Regions from separate parts of the Homo sapiens genome. Here region 1 is linked to region 2. The links come from fine-mapping of genetic effects on gene expression. A gene starts in region 2. The other region holds a variant in brackets. All regions are shown on one strand. Distances are from middle to middle.

Region 1 (5,215 bases), 63 kb after region 2:
AAAGTTGCTGATCACCTCCATGCGGTGCCTGGTGATGTCCTGCCAGTGGGCATAGCTCTGGACCTGGAGGATGACCATCTGCCATCCCTCTCAGAGCTTGATGTGTGGAATGTGTCCTGGCTGGTTGGTGAAGTGTAGTAGTTCACCCTATGTCCCCCCATGAAGTGTGTTGTTGTGGGAAGTCAGGGACCCCGAATGGAGGGACTGGCTGGAACTGCAGCAGAGGAACATAAATTGTGAAGATTTCATGGACATTTATCAGTTCCCAAAATTAATACTTTTATAATTTCTTACACCTGTCTTTTTTTTTGTTATTATACTTTACGTTTTAGGGTACATGTGCACAATGTGCAGGTTTGTTACATATGTATACATGTGACATGTTGGTGTACTGCACCCATTAACTCGTCATTTAGCATTAGGTATATCTCCTAATGCTATCCCTCCCCCCTCCCCCTACCCCACAACAGTCCCCGGAGTGTGATGTTCCCCTTCCTGTGTCCATGTGTTCTCATTGTTCAATTCCCACCTATGAGTGAGAACATGCGGTGTTTGGTGTTTTGTCCTTGCGATAGTTTGCTGAGAATGATGGTTTCCAGTTTCATCCATGTCCCTACAAAGGACATGAACTCATCATTTTTTATGGCTGCATAGTATTCCATGGTGTATATGTGCCACATTTTCTTAATCCAGTCTATCATTGTTGGACATTTGGGTTGGTTCCAAGTCTTTGCTATTGTGAATAGTGCCGCAATAAACATACATGTGCATGTGTCTTTATAATAGTATGATTTATAGTCCTTTGGGTATATATCCAGTAATGGGATGGCTGGGTCAAATGGTATTTCTAGTTCTAGATCCCTGAGGAATGGCCACACTGACTTCCACAATGGTTGAACTAGTTTACAGTCCCACCAACAGTGTAAAAGTGTTCCTATTTCTCCACATCCTCTCCAGCACCTGTTGTTTCCTGACTTTTTAATGATTGCCATTCTAACTGGTGTGAGATGGTATCTCATTGTGGTTTTGATTTGCATTTCTCTGATGGCTAGTGATGATGAGCATATTTTCCTGGGTTTTTTGGCTGCATAAATGTCTTCTTTTGAGAAGTGTCTGTTCATGTCCTTCGCCCACTTTTTGATGGGGTTGTTTGTTTTTTTTCTTGTAAATTTGTTTGAGTTCATTGTAGATTCTGGATATTAGCCCTTTGTCAGATGAGTAGGTTGCGAAAATTTTCTCCCATTTTGTAGGTTGCCTGTTCACTGTGATGGTAGTTTCTTTTGCTGTGCAGAAGATCTTTAGTTTAATTAGATCCCATTTGTCAATTTTGGCTTTTGTTGCCATTGCTTTTGGTGTTTTAGACATGAAGTCCTTGCCCATGCCTATGTCCTGAATGGTAATGCCTAGGTTTTCTTCTAGGGTTTTTATGGTTTTAGGTCTAACGTTTAAGTCTTTAATCCATCTTGAATTGATTTTTGTATAAGGTGTAAGGAAGGGATCCAGTTTCAGCTTTCTACATATGGCTAGCCAGTTTTTCCAGCACCATTTATTAAATAGGGAATCCTTTCCCCATTGCTTGTTTTTCTCAGGTTTGTCAAAGATCAGGTAGTTGTAGATATGCGGCGTTATTTCTGAGGGCTCTGTTCTGTTCCATTGATCTATATCTCTGTTTTGGTACCAGTACCATGCTGTTTTGGTTACTGTAGCCTTGTAGTATAGTTTGAAGTCAGGTAGTGTGATGCCTCCAGCTTTGTTCTTTTGGCTTAGGATTGACTTGGCGATGCGGGCTCTTTTTTGGTTCCATATGAACTTTAAAGTAGTTTTTTCCAATTCTGTGAAGAAAGTCATTGGTAGCTTGATGGGGATGGCATTGAATCTGTAAATTACCTTGGGCAATATGGCCATTTTCACGATATTGATTCTTCCTACCCATGAGCATGGAATGTTCTTCCGTTTGTTTGTATCCTCTTTTATTTCCTTGAGCAGTGGTTTGTAGTTCTCCTTGAAGAGGTCCTTCACATCCCTTGTAAGTTGGATTCCTAGGTATTTTATTCTCTTTGAAGCAATTGTGAATGGGAGTTCACTCATGATTTGGCTCTCTGTTTGTCTGTTGTTGGTGTATAAGAATGCTTGTGATTTTTGTACATTGATTTTGTATCCTGAGACTTTACTGAAGTTGCTTATCAGCTTAAGGAGATTTTGGGCTGAGACAATGGGGTTTTCTAGATATACAATCATGTCGTCTGCAAACAGGGACAATTTGACTTCCTCTTTTCCTAATTGAATACCCTTTATTTCCTTCTCCTGCCTAATTGCCCTGGCCAGAACTTCCAACACTATGTTGAATAGGAGTGGTGAGAGAGAGCATCCCTGTCTTGTGCCAGTTTTCAAAGGGAATGCTTCCAGTTTTTGCCCATTCAGTATGATATTGGCTGTGGGTTTGTCATAGATAGCTCTTATTATTTTGGAATACGTCCCATCAATACCTAATTTATTGAGAGTTTTTAGCATGAAGGGTTGTTGAATTTTGTCAAAGGCTTTTTCTGCATCTATTGAGATAATCATGTGGTTTTTGTCTTTGGCTCTGTTTATATGCTGGATTATATTTATTGATTTGCGTATATTGAACCAGCCTTGCATCCCAGGGATGAAGCCCACTTGATCATGGTGGATAAGCTTTT[T/C]GATGTGCTGCTGGATTCGTTTTGCCAGTATTTTATTGAGGATTTTTGCATCAGTGTTCATCAAGGATATTGGTCTAAAATTCTCTTTTTTGATTGTGTCTCTGCCAGGCTTTGGTATCAGAATGATGCTGGCCTCATAAAATGAGTTAGGGAGGATTTCCTCTTTTTCTATTGATTGGAATAGTTTCAGAAGGAATGGTACCAGTTCCTCCTTGTACCTCTGGTAGAATTCGGCTGTGAATCCATCTGGTCCCGGACTCTTTTTGGTTGGTAAGCTATTGATTATTGCCACAATTTCAGCTCCTGTTATTGGTCTATTCAGAGATTCAACTTCTTCCTGGTTTAGTCTTGGGAGAGTGTATGTGTCGAGGAATTTATCCATTTCTTCTAGATTTTCTAGTTTATTTGCGTAGAGGTGTTTGTAGTATTCTCTGATGGTAGTTTGTATTTCTGTGGGATCGGTGGTGATATCCCCTTTATCATTTTTTATTGCGTCTATTTGATTCATCTCTCTTTTTTTCTTTATTAGTCTTGCTAGTGGTCTATCACTTTTGTTCATCCTTTCAAAAAACCAGCTCCTGGATTCATTAATTTTTTGAAGGGTTTTTTGTGTCTCTATTTCCTTCAGTTCTGCTCTGATTTTAGTTATTTCTTGCCTTCTGCTAGCTTTTGAATGTGTTTGCTCTTGCTTTTCTAGTTCTTTTAACTGTGATGTTAGGGTGTCAATTTTGGATCTTTCCTGCTTTCTCTTGTGGGCATTTAGTGCTATAAATTTCCCTCTACACACTGCTTTGAATGCATCCCAGAGATTCTGGTATGTTGTGTCTTTGTTCTCGTTGGTTTCAAAGAACATCTTTATTTCTGCCTTCATTTCATTATGTACCCAGTAGTCATTCAGGAGCAGGTTGTTCAGTTTCCATGTAGTTGAGCGGTTTTGAGTGAGATTCTTAATCCTGAGTTCTAGTTTGATTGCACTGTGGTCTGAGAGATAGTTTGTTATAATTTCTGTTCTTTTACATTTGCTGAGGAGAGCTTTACTTCCAACTATGTGGTCAATTTTGGAATAGGTGTGGTGTGGTGCTGAAAAAAATGTATATTCTGTTGATTTGGGGTGGAGAGTTCTGTAGATGTCTATTAGGTCTGCTTGGTGCAGAGCTGAGTTCAATTCCTGGGTATCCTTCTTGACTTTCTGTCTCATTGATCTGTCTAATGTTGACAGTGGGGTGTTAAAGTCTCCCATTATTAATGTGTGGGAGTCTAAGTCTCTTTGTAGGTCACTCAGGACTTGCTTTATGAATCTTGGTGCTCCTATACTGGGTGCATATATATTTAGGATAGTTAGCTCTTCTTGTTGAATTGATCCCTTTACCATTATGTAATGGCCTTCTTTGTCTCTTTTGAATTTTGTTGGTTTAAAGTCTGTTTTATCAGAGACTAGGATTGCAATCCCTGCCTTTTTTTGTTTTCCATTGGCTTGGTAGATCTTCCTCCATCCTTTTATTTTGAGCCGATGTGTGACTCTGCACATGAGATGGGTTTCCTGAATACAGCACACTGATGGGTCTTGACTCTTTATCCAATTTGCCAGTCTGTGTCTTTTAATTGGAGCATTTAGTACATTGACATTTAAAGTTAATATTATTATGTGTGAATTTGATCCTGTCATTATGATGTTAGCTGGTTATTTTGCTCGTTAGTTGATGCAGTTTCTTCCTAGTCTCGATGGTCTTTACATTTTGGCATGATTTTGCAGCGGCTGGGACTGGTTGTTCCTTTCCATGTTTAGTGCTTCCTTCAGGAGCTCTTGTAAGGCAGGCCTGGTGGTGACAAAATCTCTCAGCATTTGCGTGTCTGTAAAGTATTTTATTTCTCCTTCACTTATGAAGCCTAGTTTGGCTGGATATGAAATTCTGCGTTGAAAATTCTTTTAAGAATGTTGAATATTGGCCCCCACTCTCTTCTGGCTTGTAGGGTTTCTGCTGAGAGATCCGCTGTTAGTCTGATGGGCTTCCCTTTGAGGGTAACCCGACCTTTCTCTCTGGCTGCCCTTAACATTTTTTCCTTCATTTCAACTTTGGTGAATCTGACAATTATGTGTCTTGGAGTTGCTCTTCTTGAGGAGTATCTTTGTGGCGTTCTCTGTATTTCCTGAATCTGAACGTTGGCCTGCCTTGCTAGATTGGGGAAGTTCTCCTGGATAATATCCTGCAGAGTGTTTTCCAACTTGGTTCCATTCTCCCCATCACTTTCAGGTACACCAATCAGACGTAGATTTGGTCTTTTCACATAGTCCCATATTTCTTGGAGGCTTTGCTCATTTCTTTTTATTCTTTTTTCTCTAAACTTCCCTTCTCGCTTCATTTCATTCATTTCATCTTCCATTGCTGATACCCTTTCTTCCAGTTGATCGCATCGGCTCCTGAGGCTTCTGCATTCTTCACGTAGTTCTTGAGCCTTGGTTTTCAGCTCCATCAGCTCCTTTAAGCACTTCTCTGTATTAGTTATTCTAGTTATACATTCTTCTAAATTTTTTT
Region 2 (5,215 bases):
ATGGTCTCCATCTCCTGACTTCGTGATCCGCCCGCCTCAGCCTCCCAAAGTGCTGGGATTACAGGCGTGAGCCACCGCGCGCAGCCGAGTTAGCTCTTACTATGGTAGCTCCCTCTTATCCACAGGGGGGAGATACACTCTAAGATCCTCAGTAGATGTCTGACGGAACCCCATATATACTATGTTTTTTCTTATACATACACACCTATGATTAAGTTTAATTTATAAATTAGGCACCATAAGAGATTTTTATTTTTCTGTTTGTTTGTTTGTTTGAGACAGGGTCTCACTCTGTTGCCCAGGCTGGAGTGCAGTGGTGTGATCTTGGCTCACTGCAACCTCCACCTCCTGGGAGCCTCCCAAGTAGCTGGGATTACAGGTGCCCACCACCACGCCTGGCTAATTTTTGTATTTTTACTAGAGACAGGGTTTCACCATGTTGGCCAGGCTGGTCTCGAACTCCTGACCTCAATTGATCCACCCATCTCAGTATCCCAAAGTGCTGGGATTACAGGCGTGAGCCACCGCACCCGGCCACCATAATTGAGTAATAGCAATAACTAATAATAAAATAGAACAACTATAATAGCATACTGTAATAAAAGTTATGTGAACATGGCCCCTCTCTCTCAAAATATCTTATTGTACCAAAATCACCTATTTTCAGATCATGGTTGACTGAGGGTAACAAAGTGAAGAAAGTGAAACTGCCGATTAAGGGGGCACTACTGCATTGGAGTTATTACGTAAACATTATACATCCTTTATTTCATTTTAATTAAACACTTGTTTCCACTTAATTTAATTTATGTATCTATCTATCTATCTATCTATATATATATATATATATATATATATATATATATTTTTTTTTTTTTAGAGAAGGGATCTCGCTCTGTCGCCCAGGCTGGATTGCGGTGGTGCCATCTCCACTCACTGCAACCTCCGCCGCCTCCCAGCTTCAAGCACTTCTCCCACCTCCGCCTCTCAAGTAGCTGTGACTACAAGCGCACGCCACCATGCCTGGCTAATTTTTATATTTTTAGTAGAGACGGGGTTTCACCATGTTGCCATGTTGGTGGTCTCGAACTCCTGAGCTCAGGCAATCCACCCGCCTCAGCTTCCCAAAGTGCTGGGATTACAGGCATGAGCCATGGCACCCGACCTGTTTCCACTTTTTACTTAAAACGTAAGTTTCTCTGGCATGCTTTCTTTTAATTCTAACTAAAAAATTAAGAGCAACTCTTCTTTAAAAACAAACAAATAAAAAACCAACAGAAAAGATTCTCTGACATTTCAATTTCCTCTGTCCCCTAGCAGCTAGAGAGAGAGAGCTACTGCTGTGGGATAATGCAAAATTGAAGAACCTTAAGAAAAAGCTGGGTCCTATTTCTGTGCAATATGGAGATTGATGGAAATGTTTACAGCTGTCATCTTGCTCTCCTTTCTTACATAATTTTGTCATTAGTTAAGTAATCTGCACAACAGATCCTTTGAAGTCCTTTTCCCTGCACTGATAATTTTCAGATGACATTGCTCTCATCTTTAAAAGGTGTAAATACTTTATACAGTTTTTTCCAAACAAGAAGAGGCTTCCTGGCAATCCCATTTCTTCCCGCTGCATGCAAAAGGTATCATAACTATCGTTTCCTTTTTAAACTGAGAGTTGAAGAGTCTTTTGCTCCTTTACATAAATCAATTACAGTGATTTTATCCAAAATAGTAACAAATATTAATAGCTCAGGTTCGCATGGAGGCCATGCACCCAGTCTTCGCGGATGCACACCGGCCCCGGCCGACGCACCCTCCCTGCCCTGCCGCTCCCGCACTCGCCGGCCCGGGATCCTCGCCCGGTCCACCCAACGCTCACGCATGTCTCAGTCCGGGTTCCGCGCCGACACAGGTCTGCAGAGCTCCCGGTGCTGTGTTCGTTTGCAGAAATTCAAGTTGCCCGGCGGGGCTGCTCCAACCTCGGAGCTGGGCGCTGACTTCTCCCTCGATGAACTCCAAAGCTCGCTGCCGGGTCAACGACCACAATGAACTGGCGAGGAGGCAGAGATTGAGGTCGTTCCAGTGGCCGCTGAGAAATGTAGTTTCAGGCTACATTGGCCGGATAGCTGCAGCCTCTGGGAAATGCAGTCCTGAGCCGTCACACCGCCGAGCATGCCCGGCGCAGTCCACAAGGCCGCCCACCGGCGCCCGGAGACTTCTGGGCGCTCCCGTCCGGCTGAGAATGCGCAGGCGCAGGCGCTCGAGTTGCTGGGAGCCATAGACCTCGAAGCTGGGGCGTCTGACACCTGAGGCCCGAAGTAGGTGGCCAGCTTCTTAGAGGGCCAACCCAGGGCATTAACACACCAGGTCAGAAAAAGCAAAAACAAAAACAAACAAAAAATGATAATCTATACCAAAATATGTTATTACTTTAACACAAAAATATGAAAACTAGGTGTTTGAAATTATCTTTCCGTACTGTTTGCTTTTCGCTACAGAAATGCTATTATTTAACAGAATATTAATAGGATTAATAGTGGCAATTAGACTAATCACGTGTGAGAAAAATATATTTCTGTCCTCTGATACAGGAATTTTAAGTTTCTATTAAATATTTAAATTTTGTGGGTTCTATCTAAGATGCTAAATGTAAGACCTTTTAAAAGGAGAATGTAAATAAGGCTAATCAAACAGATATTAACTATATGTAATAGGCATTTATCTTTCTGTCCCATCATACGTTTAGGAGATATTTACTCTTTCTGGTTCCTTTTCCAGTAACACCTCTCTGTATTAGCTGCCTGTAGCCTTTATGGCATTCTTCTTTTGGTTTATGTAATGCTAAAACTGAATACAGGCAAACGTGAAATTCACCTTGACTGTCAGCTCCGCTTTTTGTTTGTTTTGTTTTTGTTTTGTTTTGAGACAGGGTCTCCCTCTGTCGCTCAGACTGGAATGCAGTGGCGCTATCTCGGCTTACTGTAACCTCTGCCTCCCAGGTTCAAGTGATTCTCCCACCTCGGCCTCCAGAGTAGCTGAGACTACAGGGGCGCGCCACTACACCTGGCTAATTTTTGTATATTTTTTGTAGAAATGGGGTTTTGCCATCTTGCCCAGGCTAGTCTCGAACTCCTGGGCTCAAGCGATCCACCCGCCTCAGCCTCCCAAAGTGCTGGGATGACAGGGTGAGCCACCGCGGCCAGCCGAGCTCTGTTCTTATTAAGCCCACATTACAGTGATTCCTGGAGTCAGTCCAGGGTGATGACATTGATAAGGAGGTGGGGAAGGGGAGTGCTGGGGAGGGAAGGGCGGGGTCCCTTTAAATGATATGGAAGGGGGAAAGGGAGGTGCTGGGTACAGGAGGGTGTGGTCCCTGGCTAGGGCTCCACCCCTGGCCCTGTGCCAACTGACCTAGGTGAGGGCAGGCATTTTTGTTTTCCTGCCCAAATGTTGCGTTTCCCAAGACCACCCTGGCCTGCCACGCCCCCATCCTGTTCCCGCCCCCATCCTGTCCCTATAAATACTCTGAGACCCTAGCAAGCAGACACACAAGCCGCTGGACATCCAGAGGAACATGTTGGCGGAAGAAGACATGACAGACGCTGGCACGCGGGCAGGCCACCCACCAGAAGGACGCGGAGTTTGGCTGGGGCAGTCCAAGGAGAGCCGGTGCTGCGGAGCAGCCCGATTCCAGGGGAAAACCATTTCCCTTCTGGCTCCCCCAACTGTTGAGAGCTACTTCCACTCAAAACCCTGCAGTCATCCTCCAAGCCCATGTGTGATCTGATTCTTCTGGTACACCAAGACAGGAACCCCGGGATATGAAAGCCCTCTGTCCTTGCGATAACGCAGGGATCTAATTGAATTGACTAACATAAGCCGCCTGCGGACAGCTAAAGAGCATCCTGTAACACGCCCACTGGGGCTTCAGCTATAAACATTCACCCCTAGACACTGCCATGGGGTCAGAGCCCCACAGCCCGCCCGTCTGTATACTCCCCTGGAGGTTTGAGCAGCGGGACACTGAAGAAGCGAGCCACACCCCCATCGCACGCCCTGCCAGGGGGACAAGGGAACTTTTCTCTTATCAACATCAACCTAAGTAGCCTCGCATCAAAAGCATTTGACTGTCAATAGTTAGGATTTTCCCTACCAGCAGTAGCAAGTTTTTAGCCTTATTGGAATTAGTTTCCAGCTCTGCAAAAATGTTCATCTGCTTTGTAACTCCAGGCTTTTTTGGTAGAGCAGCTGTTTGTTGACCAGTCGCTTTGCCTCTGTAAGTTCACCATATAGGCTATTCATGTCTAAAGTGTTCATTTTCAAACCCTCTGAAACTCATTGGGTATCTATTACAATGTCTGAAGACAAATATTTCATTAACAAATAAGAAGGTGATAGACCTGGAGTGAGAATCCACCCAATTCATGTCAATCGGAGACAAATTTGCAATATCCTGTGATTCCTGAACTGGCTGTGGTCACTGATCACTTCTGTCCTGGAGGAACTAGAGACATTCAAGACAAATAAGGACTCATCTAGTCCCCTGATTAAAGGACTTTTCATAGAGGCTGCATTAAGGGCCAAATTATGTACAATGTGCTCTCTGAGATGGGGATGTGTAAATAGCCGTCAAAATGTCATCTGGGCAGAAATTTGTTTGGGAGGATAAATTTATGTTCAGGGGTGAGGGGTGAATACAATAGAAATTTGTATTTTGCAGAGGGAAATGTGGGTTCCATGGTGGGTAGAAATAAAATAGATTAGTAGAATACTTAGAATGTCAAAGAAATTTTTAAATCATAGGGTTTTTTTTTTGAGAAAATTTTTGAAATGATTTTGAAATGATTTATTCAAAAAGTGCCCCTCAAAAGTGATCACTCCATAGATGACAGCTAAGGATCGCAATCTTACTGCTATGCCCTTGTGTTTTGAGTGAAGACTTGTGTGACTATAGTGAGGGTCTAGGTGTTTAATCGTCAGAGGTAAATTGGAGATTTCAGATGAGGCTGTCTCATGGAAGAGGGAGGAAGGATACTCACAAACCCTACAGCTGGAATCTGAGCATCCAGTGGAAAATGACAGTCCCTGATCCCTCAGGAAACTTTCTCTGGCCACTGTCAGTGATGTTCTAATCTAGGAGAGCAGAACTTTCCCCCTTATAATGTTTCTCACTGCATTTCCTGAAATATATTTCGTCTAAGTTCCATACGTTTATCTGAAAAGA

The links. PIP is the estimated chance that this variant, and not a neighbour inherited with it, causes the effect. A credible set is the group of variants that fine-mapping cannot tell apart.
Region 1: its variant is the best candidate, but not a certain one, in a credible set for the expression of ZNF30 in whole blood (TOPMed, PIP 0.50).

What each region holds. Positions count from the first base shown.
Region 1 is chr19:34,861,303-34,866,517 of GRCh38, reverse strand. It overlaps the pseudogene LOC401913. Among named protein-coding and RNA genes, the nearest start is that of LINC03049, 3.3 kb to the right of the region's middle. The variant T/C (reference allele first, on the strand shown) is at 2,682.
Region 2 is chr19:34,923,872-34,929,086 of GRCh38, reverse strand. It overlaps ZNF30 (zinc finger protein 30), which reads right to left and starts at 2,184. Exons shown (of 5, transcript NM_194325.3): 1 at 1,871-2,184. ZNF30-AS1 (ZNF30 antisense RNA 1) reads left to right here and starts at 2,261. Exons shown (of 3, transcript NR_110749.1): 1 at 2,261-2,358.